Regions from separate parts of the Homo sapiens genome. Here region 2 is linked to region 1. Evidence: fine-mapped expression QTL. A gene starts in region 1. The other region holds a variant in brackets. All regions are shown on one strand. Distances are between the middles of the regions.

Region 1 (12,205 bases):
AGAAAAGCATGCTCTTACACAGTCGGGATACATCCTGCTGTTGTCTGCAAACAGCTTGCGTTTACAGGGAGCAACAGCACCATCTCTGGCTGAGTCAGGCCCATCTGCCTTCAGAACAGAGCCTGGCCAAGGGGCCACCTCCCCGCGCGGGACAGGCCAGCACACAGTAGGCGCTCAAGGAGCCGGGGACAGAGGCGAGGGCGGCCCACTCGTGGAGCGAGGGCGACACCCAGTGGCCATGTGGAAAATGACCTGCTCGAGCCCAAAGGCGGGTGGCAGCAGCGTCTGATCCGCCAGCCTCAGGCCAGGAGGCGGTGGCCGAGTCCGATTTGAGTCCCATGTCCTCTGGACTGCAAGTTGAGACTCCCGGTCCCAGGAGGGACAGCAAGGCCTTCTCCACCTTCACAGGCCATCTGACTACCTGCGCAGCTGTTTAAAGAGCAAACCGCGCATGAGTTAGGCCGCTTGGCCCTCCCATTCAGACCCCTCAGGCCGCCTGTGGACAGCCTGGCTCACCCTCTAAGAGCCTTCCTGCCCGCCCTGGGAACACACACCGCAGGGTCCAGGGACTGGCGTCAGGAGCAGAGCGAACTCAGCGCCACCTGGGCTCCAGGCCAGGCTCTGCTCCAGGACTGGCCCCTCCCCGATTCCCATCCCTGAAGCCAGGGCCACTGGGGTTATAGTGAACCGCTTCTGAGGACACGTGCAGCTAAGGGTGAGCAACTTGTTTTTTGTTTGTTTGTGTTTTGTGTGTGTGTGGTTTTGTTTTGTTTTGTTTTTTGAGATGGAGTCTCACTCTGTCGCCCACACTGGAGTGCAATGGCGCGATCTCGGCTCACTGCAGCCTCTGCCTCCCAGATTCCAGCGATTCTCCTGCCTCAGCCTCCCGAGTAGCTGGGATTACAAGTACCTACCACCACACCAAGCTAATTTTTGTATTTTTAGTAGAGATGGGGTTTCATCATGTTGGCCAGACTGGTCACAAACTCCTGGCCTCAAGTGATCCGCCCGCCTGGGGCCTCCCAAAGTGCTGGGATTACAGGCGTGAGCCACCCCACCCTGGGTAAGCCATTTGTCTTCAAGACCCCAAGCCTTGATATCAGACAGCTGGGTTCAAATCCGATCTCTGCCCCGCCCAGCTCTGCAGCCTCGGGAAATTCTCTATGGGGCCTTTCCTCTCTTGGGTTACCACGGAGATTCGATGATGGCAGGTGCTTAAAGCTCCCCACGTGGTACCTTTCCCGTAACAGGTGCTCAGTGGTCGCGGGCTCTTCTTTAGCTTTGTCTGCATATCAGCACGACAGAAAACAGCTGCACCGTATCTCAGGCAGCCCCAGGTATGTGGAACTAAGTGATCAAAATCAGAGACATCTGCCTCTGCTGTTCTGCAAAGCCTCTGCCCTTCCTCTCACACAGACCTGATCACACCCCCACACCAAAACATACACGTGCAAGCTGCCCAGGGCCCCTTGCTGACTGCCTCAGGGTCAAGTTCACACCGATCCCCCCACCACCAGCACAATTATCCAGCCTGGAACCCCAAGTATCCATCCTAGAAGCTGCTGTCCCCTGTTGCCCTCATCCCCACCCCTCCAGCCGCCTAGAGAAGACTGGGAAAGCCCAGAGAAGAGCAGGGCAGGCCCCTCTACTTGTTCCCTTACTCAGGCAGGTCCAAGGCAGGGCCCTGGAGCCCAGGGACAGAGGACAGGGAGGGTCCTAGGCCCACCCAGCTCAGAAGCTCAGTGGAGAGGAAGGAAGGGCTCAAGAAGCTAGAAGGATGCGGTTGTTACTACCTTCGACAGAACCAACAAACCAAGCTCAGAGCCAATTCTTAGGCAGAGTGTGTCAAGTAAATCTTACTTTCAAGCCCTGGGAAGATGTACCCTCATGCTAGCGGTGGGGGTGGGCATTCCTGTTGTACTAGGGGCTGTGACCCCTCCCAAGACCCAGCCTTACAGTATGGCTGCAGAACTACCCCTCCCACTAAGTGTCCTCATCCTCCCTCAGCCACAGCCTGAGATGAGCCTGCAGGGCCTTTCCACTCAGTGACTTTAGATAAGCAGAAACAGAGGCCTGGAGAGTTTAGGGGAATTGCCCAAAACCACAGAGCGAGTAAGTGGTAGAAGCAGGTGAAATTGTTTAACATTATTTTATTTGACCCAGTATATCTAAAATATTATCATCTTGACACAATATGAAAATGTTAGAGGTACTTTACATTCTTTTATTTATACTAACTCTTAAAAATCTGGTATATATTTAACACTTAACAGCCCATCTCAGTTTGGGTGCTAAATTTTCATTGAAAATACTTGATCTGTATTTAGATTTCATAAACTTTGCAGTGGCAGATTCACATACTTTAAATGTGAATTTGTTGTTCCAAACAAAGTGTTCACATGAAGTGTGAGTTCATTTCACCCACTCCACTGCCGTACTTTAAAATTTTTTAGTAACTGAATTGTTGGCTTTGGGTTTGTTGTTGTTGTTGTTGTTTTTGGAGATAGGGTCTTGCTCTGTCACCCAGGCTGGAGTGCAGTGGTGAGATCATAGCTCACTGCAGCCTTGACTTCCCAGGCTCAAGCAATCCTCCCACCTCAGCTTCCTGAGTAGCTGGGACCACAGGCATGCACCACCATCCCCAGCTTTTTTTTTTTTTTTTTCTATTTTTTTGTAGACATGAGGTCTCACGATGTTGTCCAGGTTGGTCTTGAACTCCTGGGCTCAAGTGATCCTCCCACCTGGGCCTTCCAAAATGCTGAGATTGTAGGCGTGAGCCACTGTGCCCAGCCAGTATTTTTTATTTTAAATGAATTCAAATGAGAAATTCAGTTCCTCAGTAACACTGGTGACACTTCAAGTGTTCAGTAGTTGCATATGCTAGTGTCTATCAGTGGACAAGCTAGCACTAGATCTTTTTGCAGAATCCTTAAATGAGACCATACCCAGCTATACAGCACTTAGAAATCCATGTCTTGGCCGGGCACAGTGGCTCACACCTGTAATTCCAGCACTTTGAGAGGCAGAGGTGGGTGGATCACCTGAGATTAGGAGTTCAAGACCACCCTGGCCAACACAGTGAAACCCCGACTCTACTATAAATACAAAAATCAGCCGGGCATGGTGGTGCCCACCTGTAATCCCAGCTACTCAGGAGGCTGAGGCAGGAGAATCACTGGAACCTGGGAGGCTGAGGCTGCAGTGAGCCAAGATTGCGCCACTGCACTCCAGCCTTGGCAACAGAGTGAGACTGTGTCTCAAAAAAGAAAAGAAATCCCTGTCTTTTCTTGTCCTGTCCAAGTACTCAGTTTCTACAGGCTTCATGTTATAGGGCGGTGTGTCCCAAATCCCTCTAGCTGATTTAGGGGTATGAGTAACAGTTAAAGCATCAAGAGAAGTAGCCACCAAATAGAAATGAAAGTATGGTGCCATTTCTGCTCATGTAGCCACTACCCCTAAAGAGGCAACACTTGTAAAGCATCCATGGAGTAAAACAAGTCTGCACATCTCAACAACTCAAGGGCACTAAGCAAAGACCATGGAGCTGCAGCAACAGGATGCTATTCAGACTGTTAGGAGGCCCACACATAACTCATTTGAGAGCACAAGGTTAATAAGTGGCAGAGCCAGAACTAGAGCCTAGGTCCTTGCACTCACGGTCTGAGCTCATCAGTGTGTGAGCTCACTTCACCCACTCCATTCCTACAGCTACAGAGTTCCCCGTGGAAGTCTCAGTTGCACACCAGAGAGGCATCTGGGGGAAAATGTTCCACCTGGTCTCATGGCCTAGGAGACAAAGAACCCTGGGTTAGGATCTCAACTCTGGACTTAGTAATGACCCTGAATAAGCCTGGGCCCTCATGTCCTTCCCACCTGCAAAATGGAGGCTGTATCCCTGTTCTAGGCCCTCTGCAACAAAGCATCACAAACTTGGTGACTTCAAACGACAGAAATTTATTCTCTCCCAGTTCCGGAGGCCAGAAATCTGACACCAACTTGTGGAAAGGGCCTCCAAAGCCTCGAGGAATCTTTCCTGGCCTCTTCCAGCTTCTGGTGAATGCAGGTGTTCCTTGGCTTGCGGCAGCAGAACTCCAGTCTCTGCTTCTGTCTTCACATCACTGCTGTCCACTCTTCTATCCCAAGTCTCCTTCTGCCTTTCTCTTAAAAGAACACTTACATTGGATTTAGGATCCACCCAGATGATCCAGGATGAACTCTTCTTCTCAGACTCCCAATTACTTCTGCAAAGGCTATGTTTCCAAATAAGGTCACATTCACAGGTTCTAAAGGTTAGGTAATGAACATATCTTTGTGGCAGAATTGGGGTGGAGGGGAGCGGAGGGAGGCTCACGGTTCAACCCATGGTAAGGAGTTTGGACCACGTGAATTCCAGGTCTCACTCAGCTCTGAAAACATACAAAAATGGCAAAGGGCAACTATCTCTACCACATAAAGAATACATCCAAGTGCCTCAGGTCAACATCAACATCCCAAGAAGTAAATGGACAGTTCACACATACAATTAGAAGATGCTCTAATTAGCAAGCAGACACACGTGGGAGTTTTGCCTTTCTAACGTCAGAGAGATGCAAACTAAAAAATTTGTTTAATCTCAGAAAACTAAAACCAAATGCTGGCAAGGATGTGATGGAACTGAGACTTAAACATGGATCTGCCATTTATTCCCTGGGACTGGCTCAGGGTAGGCACTTATTGATTTGACTTGCCGATGGATGGTTAATTGGCAAAACTCTTTGGGGGGAAACTGTGGCAACATATTCCAAGAACCTTGAAAATAAAGATGGCTATTGGCTGAAAATTCCTCATCTGTACTGAGAATTTATCCTAAGGAAATCATCCTTGTGAACAAATATTTGTCTCAGCATTATTTATAACATCTAAATAGTGCAAACAACCTAAGCCTTCAAGAGAATGGGAACAATTCTGCACAGAAGTTCCGCAGCCGTGAAAGTGATGTTAAAACCGGGAGAACAGATAAGGCTAGTTGAATAAATCGGGACCACTGAGGAGGAGGCAGGGGAGGTTTAGGGGTGCCAGCAATACTTCGCTGTGGGTGATCAAGAACATGATGTGATTGCTGTAGAATCACTTCCTTAAACTGTGCATTTGTATTATGTATTTTTTATGCTTAAAACACATTTTAAGAAAAACCGAAGATTTTATTTTTTCTTTTTAACAGCTGAATCCAAGAATCCTAGGACACTCTTAATTTGTCCCAGAAGTGTGAAGTCCACCTAGGGCATAGCCGTGAAGGGCTCCCAGAACTGTACGGGGAATTTTGAGGCTGGGGTACCGCAGTGAAGTGCAGCTCACCCGGGCGGAGCGCACCTGACCTGGCTTCCACACCTGGTGGAGCGCCTGGGAGGCCTCGCGGATAAAGCCCCGGGCAGCGCGTGACCCGCCCCAGCCCAGTAGTGGAGTCCCCGCCGCGGGCCCCTTGCTTGCAGGGTAGGTGTGGCCCGGTCGTCCCACTCTCCGCCCCCTCCTGCTCCTCCTCGCCGTGCCCAACCCGCCCGCTTCTCCTGCCTAGGCTCTTCTTTCTGCTCCTGTCGCCATGGCCCCGGCCTCGGCGCTCAAGCGACCCTCTCGCTCCGCCCAGGTCAGTGAAGGATGGGATGCAAGTGCCCGCCAAGCCCCCCGTTTCCCACGTGGAGTTCCCACAGGGCAGCAGGGAGGGGCCGCGCCTTCTCTAACTGACCCGAACCGACCCGGGCTTCACAGGCTTCGTGGAGAGCAGCTGCCCCGCCGGCATCTTCCGGATGAGGCTCTCTAGACAACAAAGCCTTCTACGCGGAAGTTACTGGTGACAGGGGAAGGACTCATGGGTTTTTGCAGCCCGGTGTCCCCAAAACAACCTCCTGACCCCCAGCCCACCCAGGTTCCCTGCTAGCCCGCCCAACCCAGAAAGACTGGCCTGCCTGGGGTCCAGCAAGGATACAGAATCGCGCAGCTGCCCCCCACAGCCTGCCGCCCAGCATCGGTTCTCCCACCCATCTGCCTGTCCCCACCCGCTATGAGACGCCCTGGGTCTGCTTCCCTGGGACCAGCCCTCAGCGTTGCCTTAAGTGATTCTGGTGCCAGGGACTCTGAGGACCCCCAGGCTCCTCCAGGCTGGCAGGTGACCATACTCCTTCCACTGCAGACCCCTGGATGCCCAGCTGCCGCACCTCCCGTGGCCCCACGCTGTGGCTACGTGTTGTCTGAAGACGCCTGGGGAAACCTTCAGGGCCTCTGTACTGGCCTGTCATGTGGTCAACCAGGTGAGCAAGCTTCTGAGATGCCCTTGTTCAATTGCCCAGGAAACAGGTGTCCAAGATTCATATGGAAGAAATCTGGCCCTGCCCTCAGCACTGAGGACATTTGGGGAATCCAGCATCCCCTCCTGGATGCAGATCGCTTCCGCCTGGCACAGGCTGTCTTCACAGCTGCAGAGTCCTCTTGTGTCTAAGAACAGAGACCACAGTTCCATCTTTGCCTTGCCAGGATTGACCTCTAATGAATAGATCACCTTTGTAAGGTGGACCAAAAAAAAAAAAAAAAAGAGCATTTCCAGGTGGCTGTAACTGACAGCTGGGAACTGCCAGAGTGTGGCAGGAGGCCCAAAGCTGTAGGAGTTTAGAGGAAGCCGCATGCAGGCACCTTGCGCTCAGATGAGGCATGGGGTAGAACTGCAGATGAGAGCAATCAGAAGGAGACTCGTGGGATAGCAGGGTTTAACCTGGCTACGATGTCAGCAAGGTGGACGGGGAGACTGGGGCCCCAGCTATGCCTGGATTTAGGGGTTCAAAGGTATAGGGAGCTAGCAGGAGCACTTCAACAGAACAGAGGTGAGATTAGTGTCAGATCACTAAATCCTAAGTCTCTTCTGTGCATCTCTACCTGCTCTATTTCATCATGCTCCCTTCCCTGCACACCTCCAGCCGTCTGTCTACTAACAAGAGACCCGTACCTCAGTCCCACTGAGCCAGGTGGGACTGGGCCAAACCTCCCTATTTGATTCTTGCCTCATCTTCCCTGGGACTTCGGTGCTTTCTTGCCCTTCTTCCAGGATAATAGATGGTTTTCCCTCAGTGTGAACATCGAGGTGTCTGGGTTCATGGAAGCTGGTGAAGAAACCACCTACAACTATACCATGTCCTGTCCCTATTTCACATGGGCCTCGAGGAAGATTCTCTGAAGGGAACTACATGGAGGTGAGCACAGGTAACCCCAGCCAGAATGCTGGGTCTCCTGGGGCCGAAACTACCTCCTTCGTTCTATGAAGTGAGGCCACACTTGATATTTTCATGGAACCAAGTCCCTTAGTACTTAAGCCTTATCAGCCATGAAATAGACCCTTTTCGGGAAACAAGATTTGATTAAGTTGAAAGGAAATCAGAATGTCAGCGATCTCTGCACTCCTATGGTCATTGCAGCACTATTCACAATGATATAGAATCCACCTAAGTCCCTCTCAGTCCCTCAGTTGGATGAATGGATAAAATGTGAAATAGATTAGATACACACACACACACACACACACACACACAGGAATACCATTCAGCCACTTTTAAAAAATGAAATCCTGTCCCTTGCAGCAACGTGGATGAACCTGGAGGTCATTATGTTAAGTGAAACAAGCCGGGCACGGAAAGACAAATACCACGTGACCCCACTCATTTGTGGAATCTGAAAAAGCTGATCTCAGAAGTAGAGACTATAGAATAGTGGTTCCAGGTAGCTGGGAAGTGTAGGAGAGATAGGTTAAAAGGTACAAAATTCCAGTTAGGAGGAATAAGTTTTAATGTTCTATTGTACAGTAGGGTGACTATGGTTAACAATAGTATATTGTATATTTATCATATTTATAATTTATATTGTATATTTATAAGAGGATTTTGAATGCTCTTACCACAAAGAAATGATAAAGGTTTGAGGTGATGGATACGCATTACCCCGATTGGATCATTACACATTGTAAACATCACACTGTATCCCATAAATATGTACAGTTATTATGAGTCAATTAAAAATACAACTTCAAATCTTGATTTAGGTTGGCAGGTAAGGAACAGAGGCCTAAAGGTAGGTGGGCTGTACACAGTCATCATCCAACCACGTGGCTCATTGCTGTTGCCTTGGGCTCAGAAGTAGCATCAAAGCTGGTGCCCCAACCAGGCCCTCGGCCCTTAGGATATCTCATGAGAACCTAGGTCCCAACAAGAAAGGCCATTCCTATGAATGACGTGACCCTTAGGCTGCATCCCTGCTCCAGGAGATGTAACTGGACCTGTGTGGGTATCTGCTGGGTCAGGTCCTGGGAATCTGCATTTACAGCCATGTGGTGTAGGGATCCCAAAGGAGAGGCTAAGACACTTGTAACTGGAGGAGGGGAGGGGAGTCAGGAGACAGAGCTGCATGAAGAGCTTGCTTGTTGGCAGGTGTCTGTGAGGATCAAATTGCCCATGGTTTCTGAAGCCCAGGACCCTGAGCAATGGATGTCAGCATTGGCTGGATGCACTCCCCATGGTAGGACTGAGGACTGACCAAGCAATCCCTGGCCAGCCCACATGGACCTGCCTACCACTCTCCCATACAGTGTGCAGGTAGCCTGCAAGCAACATCACAGCCTTCAAATTCCCTGCAGCCTATTGAGATCCTAGAGACAGGAGCCCCACCTGTCTCATCTTGCCTACCTGGGGAGGTACCCCTGTCTTTGCCAGTCTTGCCTCCAACTGGGAGCCTCTTCTGCCGGTCCTCTCTGCTGAGCCCTGCTCACACCGAGCCAGGTGGTGGAGGGACAGTGAGGGTTGCTGAGTGAAGCTATGTAACTTGTACAGCCTGCACAACTCCAAGCAGTAGCCCTGTGTCTAGTATTTTTTGGGGGGAGATTCTGGTCAGCCTTGATTTTTGGGCCTTTTTAGTGTTCTATCTTGCCAACTTAGTAAAAGATCTGGTTGTCTTGCATTTGAGAGGAGATGAGAGAAGCAAGTACCTCTTTTTTGTAAGAACAAGTAAGTGAACAAGTGCCTCTTTCCTGCCTTGCATTCAACTCCTTAGATCTCCTTGATTGCACGGTCAACCCCGCTCCTGTCTGTCAGGCTCAGGAACCACTTACAAGCTATGGCAGGTGATGTTCCAGCATCCCACAGGGAGGATTATGCTGGTGAGCCACATGGCCAAGCAGGACTATGGCTTCAACAGCTCTGGGGCCTGCATGTTCCTGCATTAGCCCTACTCCAGCAATGAGGCTGAAGTTACCAGGTGAGTTTCATCTACCCCACTCTAATCCTTGGGAGAGCGAGAGTGGGGACAGATCAGGAGGATGCTCTTTAACTGACATCTGTGAGCTCTGAGCACAGAGTACTATTAGGTTGATGCAAAAGTAATCTCAGCTTGGTCAAATAGCTTAAGTCTGCTTTTATCTTTATGAGCAATTCTAATCAAAACTGGTCATGTTCCAGGGAGCAAATAGATTAATGTGGGAGCAAATAGATGAATGTTTTCAGGATTTAGGCATCTGGTCTTACTTATAGGAAGTTTATTTCATCTCAAACAACTCCTGTATCATCTTCTCTAGGTTTTAATATAACTCAATACCTGCCTCTCTCTAAAGAGTGCCCCTGGGTAGGACTGAGGTGTGATCTCATGGGGTGGTATAACATCACAGCTGTAACTCCAGCTAGAAGTTTGTCTCAATCCCGATTGGCTGGCCAGCTATGGTTTTCTAGGGAAGGCAGTTGGCAAAGTGCCTCATCCACAGCACACCTCTCATCTGCTGCCTCTTTGTTTCTCATAGAGTGACATCATGGTATCTGGTGCAAGCTATAGCATCCACCTATTCTTGGAGCACACGTGGTCAGACACTGATTGGCATGTGACCAAGTTGATGGTGGTCAAAACAGAACTCCTTTCATGCCCACAAGCTTCAGTATTACTATGTTCCCTGCCACTTCCGTTGAAGTTTTGCAGGATTGGGATGATCCTTTGGTGTGAACGAAGCCCCAAAGAGGACCACGTGGAGAGTGCCTGGTAGGTCTTAGTGTGTACAGCAGGAATACTGACTTGGCATAAGGGCTCAAGTTTTAGCAAGTACAGCCCATCCCATCTGGGCCAGCTTCTACCTTTAGGCCTCAATATGCCCATAGACTGATTCAGTTTGAGTTCTGATCACTTGTAGCCTGTAACTAAGGGCTAGGTAAGTGCATTCAGAGTTCTGTCAAAAGTGTGATCTTGATATTTAGAAGTAAAAGCTTCAGAACATCAACTTTCTAGCCTATCATCCAATTAATGCTTAAAAACATGATATAGACCTTCCTTTAGAACTATCATTCAGGCCAGGCACAGTGGCTCATGCCTATAATCCCAACACTTTGGGAGGCTGAGGCAGGCAGTTCACCTGAGGTCAGGAGTTCGAGACCAGCCTGGCCAGCATGGTGAAACCCCATCTCTATTAAAAATACAGAAATTAGCTGGGTGTGGTGGTACACGCCTGTAATCCCAGCTACTCAGGAGGCTGAGGCAGGAGAATCACTTGAACCCGGGAGGCAGAGCTTGCAGTGAGCCAAGATCATGCCACTGCACTCCAGCCTGGGCAACAGAGCAAGACTCCGTCTCCAAGAAAAAAAGAAAAAAAAAAACTATTATTCAGACTCTAATGTGATTGAATAACTTTCGGTCCTGAGGAGAGACAACAGTAGTAAGGATTCTTTTGACCTCCATGAGCCTATAATCTACACAAAGAAGATTGTGGTTAGCCCTCACATGCGAGCTTATTTTTTTGTGTTCAGCCGCTACTTAAGCCAACATACAAAGGGACAAAGCTGGATAAATTGCACTCTTACCTGGGATGGTGAGGCTAGTATGTTAGTGGTTATTTGCATAAGGAATGGCTGGCAATTTTTGACTGATGCTGCTGGGTTGCCCTCGGGTTTATGAATGGGCTTATGTTCTCAAAATGGCCCTCGCTGATCACATCCTTCCTGTGGTTCCTCACTCGGCCTTGTTCCTGAGTTACTGGCTAAAGAAGGATTGACTCTAAGAGACAAGAGCATCTTTGGGGGGAAAGGGGAGAAGATTATCAAAGGACACAGACACCCCTAGTCCTTTCTAGTCCCCTCACAGGAAAGAGAAAACAGGATGCTCTTAGCTCTGAGGACTTAATTAAGGGAGACTGGGAGAGTCTGTTGCCGGTAAACCACAGGCTGTAATAGATGAGAACTTCCAACAGACACGGTCCCTGGGACAAGACTCTTCAACATCACCTTTGGAGCTGTCTTCCCTGGTGACCAGTTGGTGGCAATGGGGATCAGAACTGTGCCCTATCCTATTTCAGAAGTGGATGAACCTGGGTATAAGGTTTGGGAAATTTCCCTCCCAGATGGAACACAAAGGTTTGTGCTTGAAGTGTCCTTGATGACACAGAAGTGATTAAAGAGGTCAGCCAGTGCTCATGTCCAGGTAAGAAGCTGTCAGTTTGGACAGATCCTCTGCCCAGCAGATAGCTTACCAGATAGTGTTACCTGCTGGGCAGGTAACATACTTCATAGGCAGAGCTCTCACCCACCCCACCCTCACAGGTCATTAAATTACATGAGCACGTCTTGTCTAATCTAGCTTGGCAGGCTGGAGCAGTTTGAAACACTGTAATGGAGAGACCAGTAGCCACTCGAGTACGTGACAGAGTGGACATCCTCATTGGATTGAGGTCTCAAGCCCCCCATCAGGTGGTGGGCACACAAGGACAGGGCCTACTCTGCTATGCTGTCCAGCCTGAGCAGATGCTGTAAGGGGGCAGGAGGCTGTCCTAGGGTCACTACCCAGAAGTGGCTTCGTAAATTCAGGCAGCCTTTTGCTCAGCATGGCTCTAAGCTATGGTCAACCTGAAATAATTGAAAGGATCAGAATCCAGTTTTAAAGAGTTTATTCAAGCAAAAAGCTGGGAATGACCATACAGGAAACAGACTTCAGAGAAATGGAATAAGTGCTCCGAAGTTAAAAGTTAAGGTCTTGCTTATATAGGCAGAAAATAAAGAAATTCAGTAGGATTTTATCATTTTCTATACAAGGCTGTTTTATGAGTTACAATTTAGTTTGTTTTCTTTTCCATAAAGTTTGTTTTCTTTACAGCTTGTTTTCATTTCCTTTCCAATTTAAGAGTAGTTAACATTCCATCTTAGACAATCCCATAGCCATGAAGACTTTG
Region 2 (12,205 bases), 83 kb before region 1:
GCAAAGAGGATTGGAAGTGCTGATCACAAACACAAGATATGGGATGAGCTTCAGTCTAGAGGAGGTTCCAGCAAAGGACAGGGCATCACACCCTGGGCCACCTCCGTGAGCACAGAAAGGATTCAAGGCAACATGACTCTCTTTACCCATCTGCTAAATGGAGCTGAATCAGGCTAGTTTTTCTAGGCAAAAAACAGGTCACAAAATGTCCAATTTTAAGATTATTCTCAATGTCTCTTTGCCAGGTTACCCTTATCTGAGCAAACAGAATTCATTTCCAAAATCAACTCTCCATAAATTGTATTTGGGAGAAACCCTTACATAACTTTAGATATAATTAAGGGGAAAACAGAAAATGGGGGTGGGTGGGCAAAACGGTATGGAGAAGCTGATTGTACCCATAGATTGAAAGGATTCTATTCATAGATTAAAAGCTGGCTTTTGGCCTTATTTAAAAAAAAAAATTCTTCCCATTAGGGTGCTTGAGATGCCTAGAGGTAGGGTCGGAGATAAATCTGGTACTTACCATGACAGGCTGTGGAAGGAGGATGCCAGCTGGCCCTATAGACAGATTCTGCTTCATGGCTTTAGGACCAGTAGTTGGGGAGCCCAAGGCAATGCCCATGGCAACAGATCACCTGTGCATTTAGGCAGTAGCTTTTCGTCCTTGTCTTTGGTGCTCACTGCCAGCTGGCATTACCTTCATGGGCTCTTCTTTCTGATGGGGACTGGAATGGAGGAGAGGGCTTCCCACAGGATAAAGTACTCTCTGCCTACCTCTCCAACTTCATATAGACCACTCTCTCCCTGGCCCCCAGAGCTCCAGCTGTTTAAATCTCTCAGTTTCTTGAACCCACCATGCCTGTTCTTGTCCAGGCACTTTTGCTCTGCTGTTCCCACTGCTGCAAAACACTCTGCCCCTTTTCTGGGCTCCCTGGTGATATGCTAGCCTTTCGTGACCTCCTGGATTAGGGTAGGGGTCCTCTTCAGTTCTCTGGCCTCACCCTACACCCTCACACCCTGCTTCTCACTCCTCCAGGCTGCTGACCTTGCCACACCTCAGGCTTATAGAGGGAAGACCTGTGTCTGCCTGGGGCACAGTGGCCTCCGTGGTGCCTAGACACGGTGATGCTTCCTGCATGTTTACTGATAAAGATGTGAAGGAGAGTGCAAACTGCACTCAGCTCTTCTCTCATTCTAAAGAGCCACAGGAAAAGGTCAAGGCTCTGAGATTAACCGGGTGAGCCTCAGAGGTCATTGGATATGTCAAGATCGAGAAGTAGAGGATTCTCACATGAGAAATGAGAGTCATGGAAGTTAGCTGCAAAACTGTGCAAACTTTTTGTACTAGCAGATTCAGTCTTCCCATCCAGAATGGAGGTGTCTTTGTGGTGGACTGTCTCTTCCTGCTAGTAACTCTCCCAGGGTATAGTAATGATATGGTTTGGCTGCGTCCCCACCCAAATCTTATCTTGAATTGTATTCCCATAATTCCCACATGTTGTGGGAGGGACCCAATGGGAGATAATTTGAATCATGGGGGCAGTTTCCCCCATATTGTTCTTGTGGTAGTGAATAAGTCTCACGAGATCTGATGGGTTTATCTGCGCTTTCTGCTTTTGCATCCTCCTCATTTTCTCTTGCTGCTGCCATGTAAGAAGTGCCTTTTGCCCCCCATCCCGCCATGATTCTGAGGCCTCCCCAGCCATGTGGAACTGTAAGTCCAATTAAACCTCTTTTTCTTTCCAGTCTCTAGTATGTCTTTATCAGAAGACATAAACAGACTAATACAGTAAATTGGTACCAGTAGAGTGGGGTGTGGCTGAAAAGATATCTGAAAATGTGGAAGCAACTTTGGAACTGAGTAACAGGCAGAGACTGGAAAAGTTTGGAGGGCTCAGAAGAAGACGTGAAAATGTGGGAAAGTTTTAAACTTCCTAGAGACTTGTTGAATGGCTTTGACAAAAATGCTGATAGTGATATGAACAATAAGGTCCAGGCTGAGGGGGTCTCAGATGGAGATGAGGAACTTCTTGGGAACTGTTAGCAAAGAGACTGATGGCATTTTTGCCCCTGCCCTAGAGATCTGTGGAACTTTGAACTTGAGAGAGATAATTTAGGGTACCTGGCAGAAGAAATTTCTAAGCAGTAAAGCATTCAAGAGATGACTTGGGTGCTGTTAAGAGCATTCAATTTTAAAAGGGAAACAGAGCATAAAAGTTTGGAAAATTTGCATCCTGACAATGCGATAGAAAAGAAAAATCCATTTTCTGAGGAGAGATTCAAGCCTGCTGCAGAAATTTGCTTAACGAGGAGCCCAATATTAATCCCCAAAACAATGGGGAAACTGTCTCCAGGGCATGTCAGAGGTCTTCAAGGCAGCCCCTCCCATCACAGGCACAGAGGCCTAGAAGAAAATAGTTTCCTGGGCCGGGCCCAGGGTCCCTTTGCTGTGTGCAGCTTAAGGACTTGGTTCCCTGTGTCACAGCTGCTCCAGCCATGGCTGAAAGGGGCCAACATAGAGCTCGGGCCATGACTTCAGAGGGTACAAGCCCCAAGCCTTGGCAGCTTCCAAGTGATGTCGAGCCTGCCAGTGCACAGAAGTAAAGAATTGGTGTTAGGGAACCTCTGCCAAGATTTCACAGGATGTATGAAAATACCTGGATGTCCAGGAAGAAGTTTGCTGCAGGGGTAGGGCTCTCATGGAGAACCTCTGCCAGGGCAGTGCAGGAGGGAAATGTGGGGTTGGAGCCCCCACACAGAGTCCTTACTGAGGCACCACCTAGTGGAGCTGTGAGAAGAGGACTACCATCCTCCAGACTCCAGAATGGTAGATCCACCTATAGCTTGCACCACGTGCCCAAAAAAGCCACAGACACTCAACACCAGCTCATAAAAGAAGCTGGGAGGGAGGCTGTACCACAGCGGCCGAGCTGCCCAAGACCATGGGAAACCACCTTTTGCATCAGCGTGACCTGGATGTGAGACATGGAGTCAGAGGAGATCATTTTGGAGTTTTAAGATATGACTGCCCCGCCCATCCCATTTGCCTCTGTTCTCTTTTTCCATTCTGCAGATGTTTGGAGTCAGATCACTGTCTTTGGAAGGCAGTGTTTGGAGGAAGAGCACTTGCCAAAAGACCTGGCTCTACTGCTGCAACGGGGAAGTCAGGCGCCTGCAAAGGGCTTGGTCAGGACAACAGCAGCTCACCTCCCTGGCATGGACTCCTAACAGGCCCCTCAGTATCAGTCAGATACAGCCCCAGCCATTTGCCTTCCCTGCCCCCACTGCCCCCACACCTTCCCTTGTCCCCATCACTACCCTGCCTGCTGAGAATGCTCACTCAAAATCCACCCCCACTGCAGGAAGCCTTCCCTGACCACTACCCTTCAAACACACACACACACACACACACACCATACACACATTATAAACACATACCACACACACACAACCCACACTACACATACCACACACACATATGGTATGTGGGGCCAGGGGCAAAATGATATGGTTCGGCTCTGTGTCCCCACCCAAATCTCATCTTGAATTGTACTCCCATAATTCCAACGTGTTGTGGGAGGGACCCAGTGGGAGATAATTTGAGTCATGGGGGCAGTACAAACACATACCACACACACACCCCACACTACAAACACATACCACACATACACCCCACACTACAAATACACAACACACACACATCCCACACTACAAATACATACCACACACACACCCCATACACACACTACAAACACATACCACACACATACAACCCACACTACAAACACATACCACACACATACCCCATACACACAACACACACACTATACACATATACACACCACAGTCACATACCACACACGTTACATATACATACTACACACACTGTAAACACCATACACACATAACATGCCACACACATGCTACCCTACACACGCACACACATCCCTCCCACCAACCAGGCAACAGTGGCTTTCTTTTTCACAAAATCTGACTGCGTTGACTGCAGCTCTTCATGCAAAGCAACCAGAATAGTACCTGGCAAGTGTGGCCTTCTCCTTCCCCACCTGGGCCCTGAACATACCTGGTCTGTAGCCAGGGTTGCCCTACCTCTCCACAGAGCAAGAACCTGAAGGGTTTAGGTGGAGAGTGAGTCGACAGCCACATTCAGGTAACTGGGAAGATACCCAGGAGCGGGCTGGCCACACTCGGGGATGGTTTGAGGGTGATATGCAGATGACGCCACTCACCCCTGCAATGCTGCTTCACTCTTCAGAACCAGCACAGCCCAAACTGCTCAACAGTGTTTCATCCAAGCAAATGAGAGGCAGATTCCTTAATAAAGAAACAAAACAAAAGAGACCCACGCACTGAGAGTAGGAGGCTGGTTCTGACCTGACTCTGCCATGAACTCCCCGAATGACCTTGGACCAATCACTTGAGCTGCCCAGACCTCAGTTTACACTATATGTAAAAGAGGAATCGTTTTTCCCGGGGCCCTCTCACAGGATGGCTGTGATTACCCATGGAACAAGCAACAACTAAGGGCTTGCAAAGTTAAAGTGCCAGACAAAAAAGTCTCCCTGGTAGAGGTTGCAACTTCCTCAACCCCTGAGAGGTGACAAGGTAGATATCAGCAATTGGACTTACCTCCCAATCTAAGTCCAGGCATATGGCTTCCCCAATGCCATAAAGGGAAAGACAGGAAATTACTTTTTCCCTGAGGGTGCTGAACTAGGCAGATAGCCAGCCTATTGTTATTCAATGTCAGAGTCAAAAATCCTGAGAGACCTCGATACCCCTCACAACAGTGTCAAAACTGGAACAATCTTAACACACACACACACACACACACACACACACACACACAAAACTTTCACTTTCATCATCCCCGGGCATCCCACTCAGGGCATAAAGCACGCCTGGGAACAAGAATCACAGGTTTCCTACCTCGCTGGAGACTTCACAATGACCCAGGGCCCCTAAGAGTTCCAAATATAGTCCAGGCTCCCAGAGCCAAGGCAGTGACTGGCCAGAGCCTCCCCATTTAGGGGTACTGACCTGAGTGCCATCTACCCGTCAAAGTGCTTGAGCCACAACAACAACCCCTGAACGTGAGGCTGATTAAAGAGGGTTACGTGAACTGCCGAATTAAGCCGTCCAAAATTGGATAAAGTGATTGTGAAATCTGTTTTGAGTCAACCTATACATGTCTCATTGCAGGAAAATGTCTCGGTAAGAGTTCATGGAGAAAAAGTCTGGCAACTCATTGTTGGCTGACCTTCCTGGGCTCCTAATATTCAGTTCCCCAAAAGGCATCTTAGCCATGTAATTTCCAATATGGGAACAATTTGAGTTGCAATTAGGCAAATCTCAGAAGGTTCTGCCACTGATTTGTTCATTCTCTCAATATTATTCTATAGGACACACTAAAATACTGCACCAGGTTCACGCAGAGGACAATTAGGACTGCTGCATGTCAGGTTACAGAGGCTGGGTAAACACATCCATGTCGCCATTCAGGAATGGTGTCGTTAGGCCTGCAGAGCTGGGCACAGGGCCCTCTGCCCCAAAGGACACCTACTAATGGCTCTGTGGGGGACAGAGGCTGTTAGCAACCCAGAGCTTTGGGCTGTGGTGATGGCAGGTCCAGAGCAAGTGGAGAGGGGGTCAGGGTAGCTAGCAGCCGGAATGCAACCCTGGAGATTGTAGATGAAGGAAAGCTAACAGACAACCCCTGGCAGTAACATTAGATTTTGTTAAAAGCTACATCTTTCACTGAGCACCTCCTCTGTGTCAGGCTCAAGCCAGGGCCCAGGGACACTGAGATGAAAAAGACATAGCTCTTGACCTCAAGAAGCCCAGTGGGAGGGCATATCAGCAAGCCCAATTATGATAAAAGATAAATTACAATCAAGATACTATTTTCAAAAGTGCCAAGAAAGCACAGAAAAGGAAGAGTTTGATTCGCCTGCAGTGTAAGAATAAGCTTCCCATCGAAGGGCATATTTGAGCAAGCCTTGATGCATGGCTAAGAGTAGGGCAGGTAGAGAGGAGAGAAATGGCCATTTTAGAGGAGAATGCTTGGTTGGGATGAGTTGGCACTTTCTGAGCCATGAGTGCCTCCCAAGGACTGAGTCATGTT[C/T]CTCTTTTTCAGTAAGCAAAAACTGCTAGTCTTCAGTTTATCTCAGGCCTGCCTCCAGGGAGAAGAAACTGTCATTCCAGTCCCCTTTGAGGCATATTTGGGTTTCCCCGGACTCCTGTTATGATTTGCTCTTTGTCCCCAGGTGGCTAGTTTACTCCCAGCGAAGAGGAATGTCTGGATTCTCCTCTAAGCCCTTTGCACAAAGTGCAGAAGCTGTCTCATCCCTTCCTGACCAAGCACATGACTCCGACCAGATTCTGCTAGAATTCAAGCATAGGTGAGGGCAAAGCCAGCCTTGACTGGGGACCTGCAGAGCAAGGCCTGAGTCAGGTTTATCTTTGTTTTTCCTTTGCCCCCACACCTACTCAGGCCCAGCTCTCAGGATCAAGTGTGTGGGTGAGTGAAGAAGCCCAAGTCAATAGCCGGGCAGTGCCTGGATGGTTAAGGGAGCACTCAAATCTCAACCTTGGGATCTGGTTAAGGGGCCGAATCACAAGCAGGAGAGAGGGGAAAAATGGGGCAATTAGTCTCAGGAACGAAAGGCAGAGGTAAGTTGTGTCAGGGCCACGTGTGGAGTGAGATTCAGGGACCATATAGGTCTGGAAGCCAGGAAGGAGAGTGGGTCGCCACCGGGCAAACCCAGCTTCCCAGAGCAAGAGAACCTTAGGAAGCATGCAGGGCGACTGCGGAGGCAGAATCAACAACTCAGCATGGCTCCGCGTGGTGGGCATCCTGCTAAAAACCACCTTCCGATCACAGTGGGAGTCGATTTGCACTTTGTAAACAGAGTTCCCTTCCCTGACACAGGAGTACCCCTTCCTCCATGAATTTCCTTTGGCATCTTCCTGCAGGTGACATGGATAGGCAGCTGCCACTTTCCACCCACGAAGAAACCCTGAGGATGAAAACTACCCAGGAACACTGCATGACAACTGCAGCAGCCCCGCACTCTATCCCTGGGCCTCTTGCTCAACTGAGAAAAATAAGCCCTATTTGTTTAAACCAACTATTCCACTTTTTCTTTTCAAGCAGCCAAATTCACTCCCTGATACACCTGACACTGGGCAGGTACTTGGTAAATGCGCATGGATGCTCCTGAGTCATCAGATAGCAGGAAAGATGCAGATGATCCCTGTGGATGAAATGCCTTGCCTTGGCTTCCAGCTGCGTGATGCTGTTCAAACTTCAAATCAGCCCCACAGACACCCCTTCTCCTCTCTTTCTCCTTCACACACACATCTCCTTTGAGTGCAGAGAGGCTACCGTTCCTGCAACAGAATCTGCCTTCCAATCGCAAGGTCACTCATCAAGGTGCTGCTTAAGCTGGGATTATTTCTTAATGATGTTCTAGGAGGGACAAAGCAGGAGCTCTCACCTATAAGTCCCGGAGCCAGGCCCTTCATGCGTCCCCGTCCCAGTCTCCTCATCTGGTAAATAGGGGTTAAAATTATTCCACAAGTCATAGATGGGGTAAAAAATGCTCCTTTTGGAAGTAAGAGTTTATTTCTGTCATGGTTAGTATTTTCTCATTTGTTTCTGGCTGAATGAAAGGTCTGCTGCTTCTTAATGATACTCCTGGTGCTGGGCATGGTGGCTTATGCCTGTAATCTCAGTACTTTGGGAGGCCGAGGTAGGAGGATCACTTGAGCCCAGGAATTTGAGACCAGCCTGGGCAACATAGCAAGACCCCCCCTCTACAAAAATAAAAATAAAAAAATTAGCTGATGTGGGGGTGCACACCTGTATTCCTAGCTACTCTGGAGGCTGAGGCAGGAGGATCACTTGAGCCCAGGAGTTTGAGATCACAGTGAGCTATGATCCTGCTGCTACACTCCAGCCTAGGTGACAGAGTAAGACCCTGTCTCTAAAAATAAATTTAAAAGAAAATTAAGGATACTCCCAGATCATAAAATTATTCTGCCAAGATGCTTGTGGCTTCGCTTAGGGATACAGCTACCCCAAAGCAGACAGTCGCTTGTCCAGTATCTCCTGAGCCACTACCAACACATAAGCCCAACCCCATCCGGACAGTAACCAGACCTGTGCCTTCCTAACCCAAATACAGGCTCTAAGGGTTGGCTGGGGGTGAGGATAGGAGCCTGAGCCTTCTTGCAGGTCTCACTGCCCAGTGCCCCAGCCCTCCAAGGTCTCCCCTTGACAGGCCTAAAAATGAAAACGCCTAATCCTACACAGGGTACAAGACACATCACAAGCCACGCAGATGTCACTGGCCATTTTAAAAAGCCCATGCTGGACATGGCTGTACCCAGAGAGCCTAAGGACTCCAAGAAATACCACTGGGGACTGATCACATTTGATTCTCTCAGTGACCCACTGACCCTAAGTACAGTGTCCAGTGTCTATACTGGTGCCTAGAGTTGGGCTGTCCTGCCTCCAAGGAGGCCTGCTCAGCGGGTGGGTCAGTATGTAAATAACTGGGCACAGAAAGAGCCTGAAAGTCAGGCCCACCCATGCTGGGGGAAAGGCCCAGAGCAGGGAGAAACACTTTTTCCAGGAAATCAGGAAAGCCATCATGAAGATTTCCCCAGCACGGGTCATTCTGAAGGAGGCAACAGCATGAGCAAGGGTGGGAAGCAGGAAAACAAGCAGCATCAACAAGGAATGGAGGGCTCAGTCCCAGAACACCTGGTGCTGATGGGGAGCAAGGAGAGTGGGGTAGGAAGGCAGGCTGGGGGCCAGGGAGGGCCAGAAGTTGGGCTTTGTCAGGAGGATGTCAGATGACATTGATGCATGGGGGGTATGACAAAGGTGGTCCTTGAGAAGATGGATCTGGTAGAGGATAGAGAGGGAGGGTGAAAGCAGGGAGCAGGGAGAGCTTTGGGGTGGCCCTGGTGGGCTCTGAGCTAGGATGCTGACAGCAGAAACAGATGGGAGAGAGGTCTTACGGTGGGAGAATTGGTCAGCCAGAGCTGCACTCTGAAAACAGGGAGTGGCAAAGAGAATACCCAGCATTTGGTTTGGGTGCCTAAGAGCATAGTGGTTCAATGAAAAACCTCAGGAACTAAAGAAAATAGCAAGTTAGAGAGAAGATGGTGAGCGGTGCAGAGGGAGCATCCCCTCCTACCGCACCACACTTTCCCGAGTGTACAGACCATACTCTCCTCCCTGTTGGAGCTATTTGAGACCACATCCGTCCCCACTCCAGGTGTCATGCAGAGCTTCCCCCATCCCTCAACTCTGGTCCAATGCCTGTTACAGCCTTTGACAGGCCGTTGATTCAGGGATGTTTGGTCATTCATGGGTTGAGATCCATGAAGTCACTTTAAAGGACAACACAAATGTGTCCCTGCCTCTGGTGACCGGAGCCCAGCACTGTCTCGACGGGAGATAATGAGACCGTCCCTTGATAGCAGGTGTCACTTAGCTCCATGGAATCAACCTCTTCTTGCTTCAATGTCACTGCCAGGTGGAGGAGAGCCATATCTGAGCATCTGTTTGTTTACAGGCATTGGCCATGGGGATTCCCTTTTGGCCAAGAACCAGAGTCCCATACCATGATGATTTCCAGCTTCTTTTCCATTGATTAACAAGCCGCAGGGGGGGTGTCACAATAAAAACCAATGCTACCACAGACCCATTAATTGTAGCTCCTTCTAAGCCCAATCAGCTGCAGGTAGGGTGACCAACCATCCCAATTTGCCTGGGAGTCTCCAGTTTTAGCACCAAAAGTCACACACCGCAGGAAAGTCCTCAATCCCAAGCGAATGTGAACAGCTGGTCACCCTAGCTGCAGAAGAGCTCTCTGATGTCCAGACAGGAGCAACCCTGAGGAGTTTCTTGGTTTGTGTTCCCAGCTGCTGTGGGAACACAGGCAGACAGCCAGCAGAGGCACTGCCCCGGGGCCGCCGAGTCTCCCCACCACAGACTCAGGCCCTCCGTAGCCTCTTCAGAGGCTACAATGCCCTGTCCTTTGCCTCCACCCCCTGTGAGATTAAGCCCATCCTCAGAGGCCCGCCAGAAGGCTGGGCACACAACATGTGCTCTGTAAGGAATGGTCAATTGTCTTAGGAAGTCTGTCCCTCTGCCTCTCCGATCTTCGCTTTTCTCCTCTCAGGGAAAGGCTGAATGGATTCATGTGGGCACTTGATTCTACCGGAATGCCACAACCAAGAATTAATTCCCAGGACAAATTCAGGTTCCTATTGCTGATTTATTGACACTCTATCCATCCAAATCCAGTTTGGTAAACCATTTAATCATGAGGTTTGTATATGAGAGTTTCCTAATGAGACATTTTACACCTTTTTTTGTTTGTTTTTTTTTTTTTGAGATGGAGTCTCGCTCTGTCACCCAGGTTAGAGTGCAGTGGGGCATGATCTTATCTCACTGCAACCTCCACCTCCTGGGTTCAAGTGATTCTCCTGCCTCAGCTTACCATAACTGGGATTACAGGCACCCACCACCAAGCCCAGCTAATTTTTTGTATTTTTAGTAGAGACAGGGTTTCACCGTGTTAGCCAGGATGGTCTCAATCTCCTGACCTCGTGATCAGATCTTCTGACCTCATGATCTGCCCACCGCAGCCTCCCAAAGTGCTGGCATTACAGGCGTGAGCCACTGCACCCAGACTTTACATCTGTTTTCTAAGAAAAGAAGCCATATGTTTCCAAGAGCAAACTGACTTGGTACCCTCAATAATGGAGTCCTGCTAAGGGGACTTCTAGGGAAAGGAGAGTCCTCTTTATCCTGTAAGGAGTGGAAAAGTGAGAGGCACGCAAAAGGCTAGATGCTGCACCACGGGGACATGCAGACTCACCTGCTTTGTGTTTTTAATAAATGTTTTTATTTTGAGATAACTTTAAACTTACAGAAAAAGCGCAAAGGTAGTACATGGAGTTTGCCAATGTTCCCTGTTGTTAATATTCTTACATTTCCACAATATATTCATCAAAACTAAGAAACCAGCATTTCCACAATATATTCATCAAAACTAAGAAACCAGCATTGATTGGCTACAATTAGCTTTTTTTTCCTTCAGATTTCACCAGTTTTTCCAACGTCCCTTTTCTGTTCCAGGATCCAATTCAGGTTTCACCTTGCAAAAAAGCCTTGTGTCTTCTTAAGTTCCTCTGGTCTGTAACAGTTTCCCAGACTTTCCTTGCTCTTTATGTCCTTGAGAGTTTTGGGACACCCTGGTCAGATATTTTGTAGCACACCCCTCAGTTTGGGCTTGTCTGATGTTTATCTCATGATTAGACTGATGCTATGGGTTTTGGAGAAAAAATATAATGGAAGTGAAGTGCTTTCCTCTCCACAGCCAATGAGGCTACACGCTGTCAACACGACTTACCTCTCACGATGTGAACTTTGTCCCCTAGCCAAGGTAGTGTCTGCCAGTTTCTCCACCATGGAACAGAGCAGGATTTTTCAAATGTCTGCCTTTCCAAACCTTATTGGGGAAAGCAGCAACAATAGCTTCTATGTTCATCCAACTCCCTGGCCGTGACTACTTGTCCAGGGGTGACAAGCATTTGTACAAGTTCCCCCATGACCAGGCTAGAAATCTGATCAACCTCACACAGAACCTAAAGTGGTCCCACTCCATCAGGAATTGTATAACAACAGAAGGTAGCCCTGGTCCAAGAGAAAACTGCAGTCCTTAGACTGATGTCCTCAAAGAAAGCCTATACAGTTGACCCGTGAACAACATGGGTTTGAACTGTGTGGTTCCACTTACATGTGGAATTTTCTTCAACCAAACACAGATTGAAAATAAGAGTATTCACAGGATATGAAACCTGCATATACAAAGGGCCAATTTTTTTGTATATGGAGGTTCCATAGGGCCAACGGAGAGACTTGAGTATATGTGGATTTGGGTATACTCCAGGGTCCTGGAATCAGTCCTTGAGTATACCAAGGGACAACTGTAGTTGCAAGAAAAAAAAATATGTATATTTACATTTGTATTAGTCCATTTTGACACTGCTATAAAGAACTTCCCTAAGACTAGGTAATTTATAAAGGAAAGAGGTTTTATTGACTCACAGTTCCACATGGCTGGGGAGGCCTCAGGAAACTTACGATCATGGCAAA

Alleles and levels. Alleles are on the strand shown, and positions count from the first base shown. SD is a standard deviation of normalised expression in the study named.
For the expression in monocytes after LPS of the gene that starts at base 5,522 in region 1, C is the high allele of the variant in region 2 and T is the other (large effect, 0.91 SD a copy in Quach 2016).

The links. PIP is the estimated chance that this variant, and not a neighbour inherited with it, causes the effect.
Region 2: its variant is the best candidate, but not a certain one, in a credible set for the expression of LINC00954 in monocytes after LPS (Quach 2016, PIP 0.82).

What each region holds. Positions count from the first base shown.
Region 1 is chr2:19,863,333-19,875,537 of GRCh38, forward strand. It overlaps LINC00954 (long intergenic non-protein coding RNA 954), which reads left to right and starts at 5,522. Exons shown (of 10, transcript NR_033875.1): 1 at 5,522-5,620; 2 at 6,164-6,281; 3 at 7,070-7,214; 4 at 9,061-9,264; 5 at 9,800-10,032. RefSeq lists enhancers at 179-679, 5,234-5,283.
Region 2 is chr2:19,780,497-19,792,701 of GRCh38, forward strand. No RefSeq gene overlaps it. Among named protein-coding and RNA genes, the nearest start is that of LINC00954, 82 kb to the right of the region's middle. RefSeq lists an enhancer at 5,650-6,849. The variant C/T (reference allele first, on the strand shown) is at 6,149.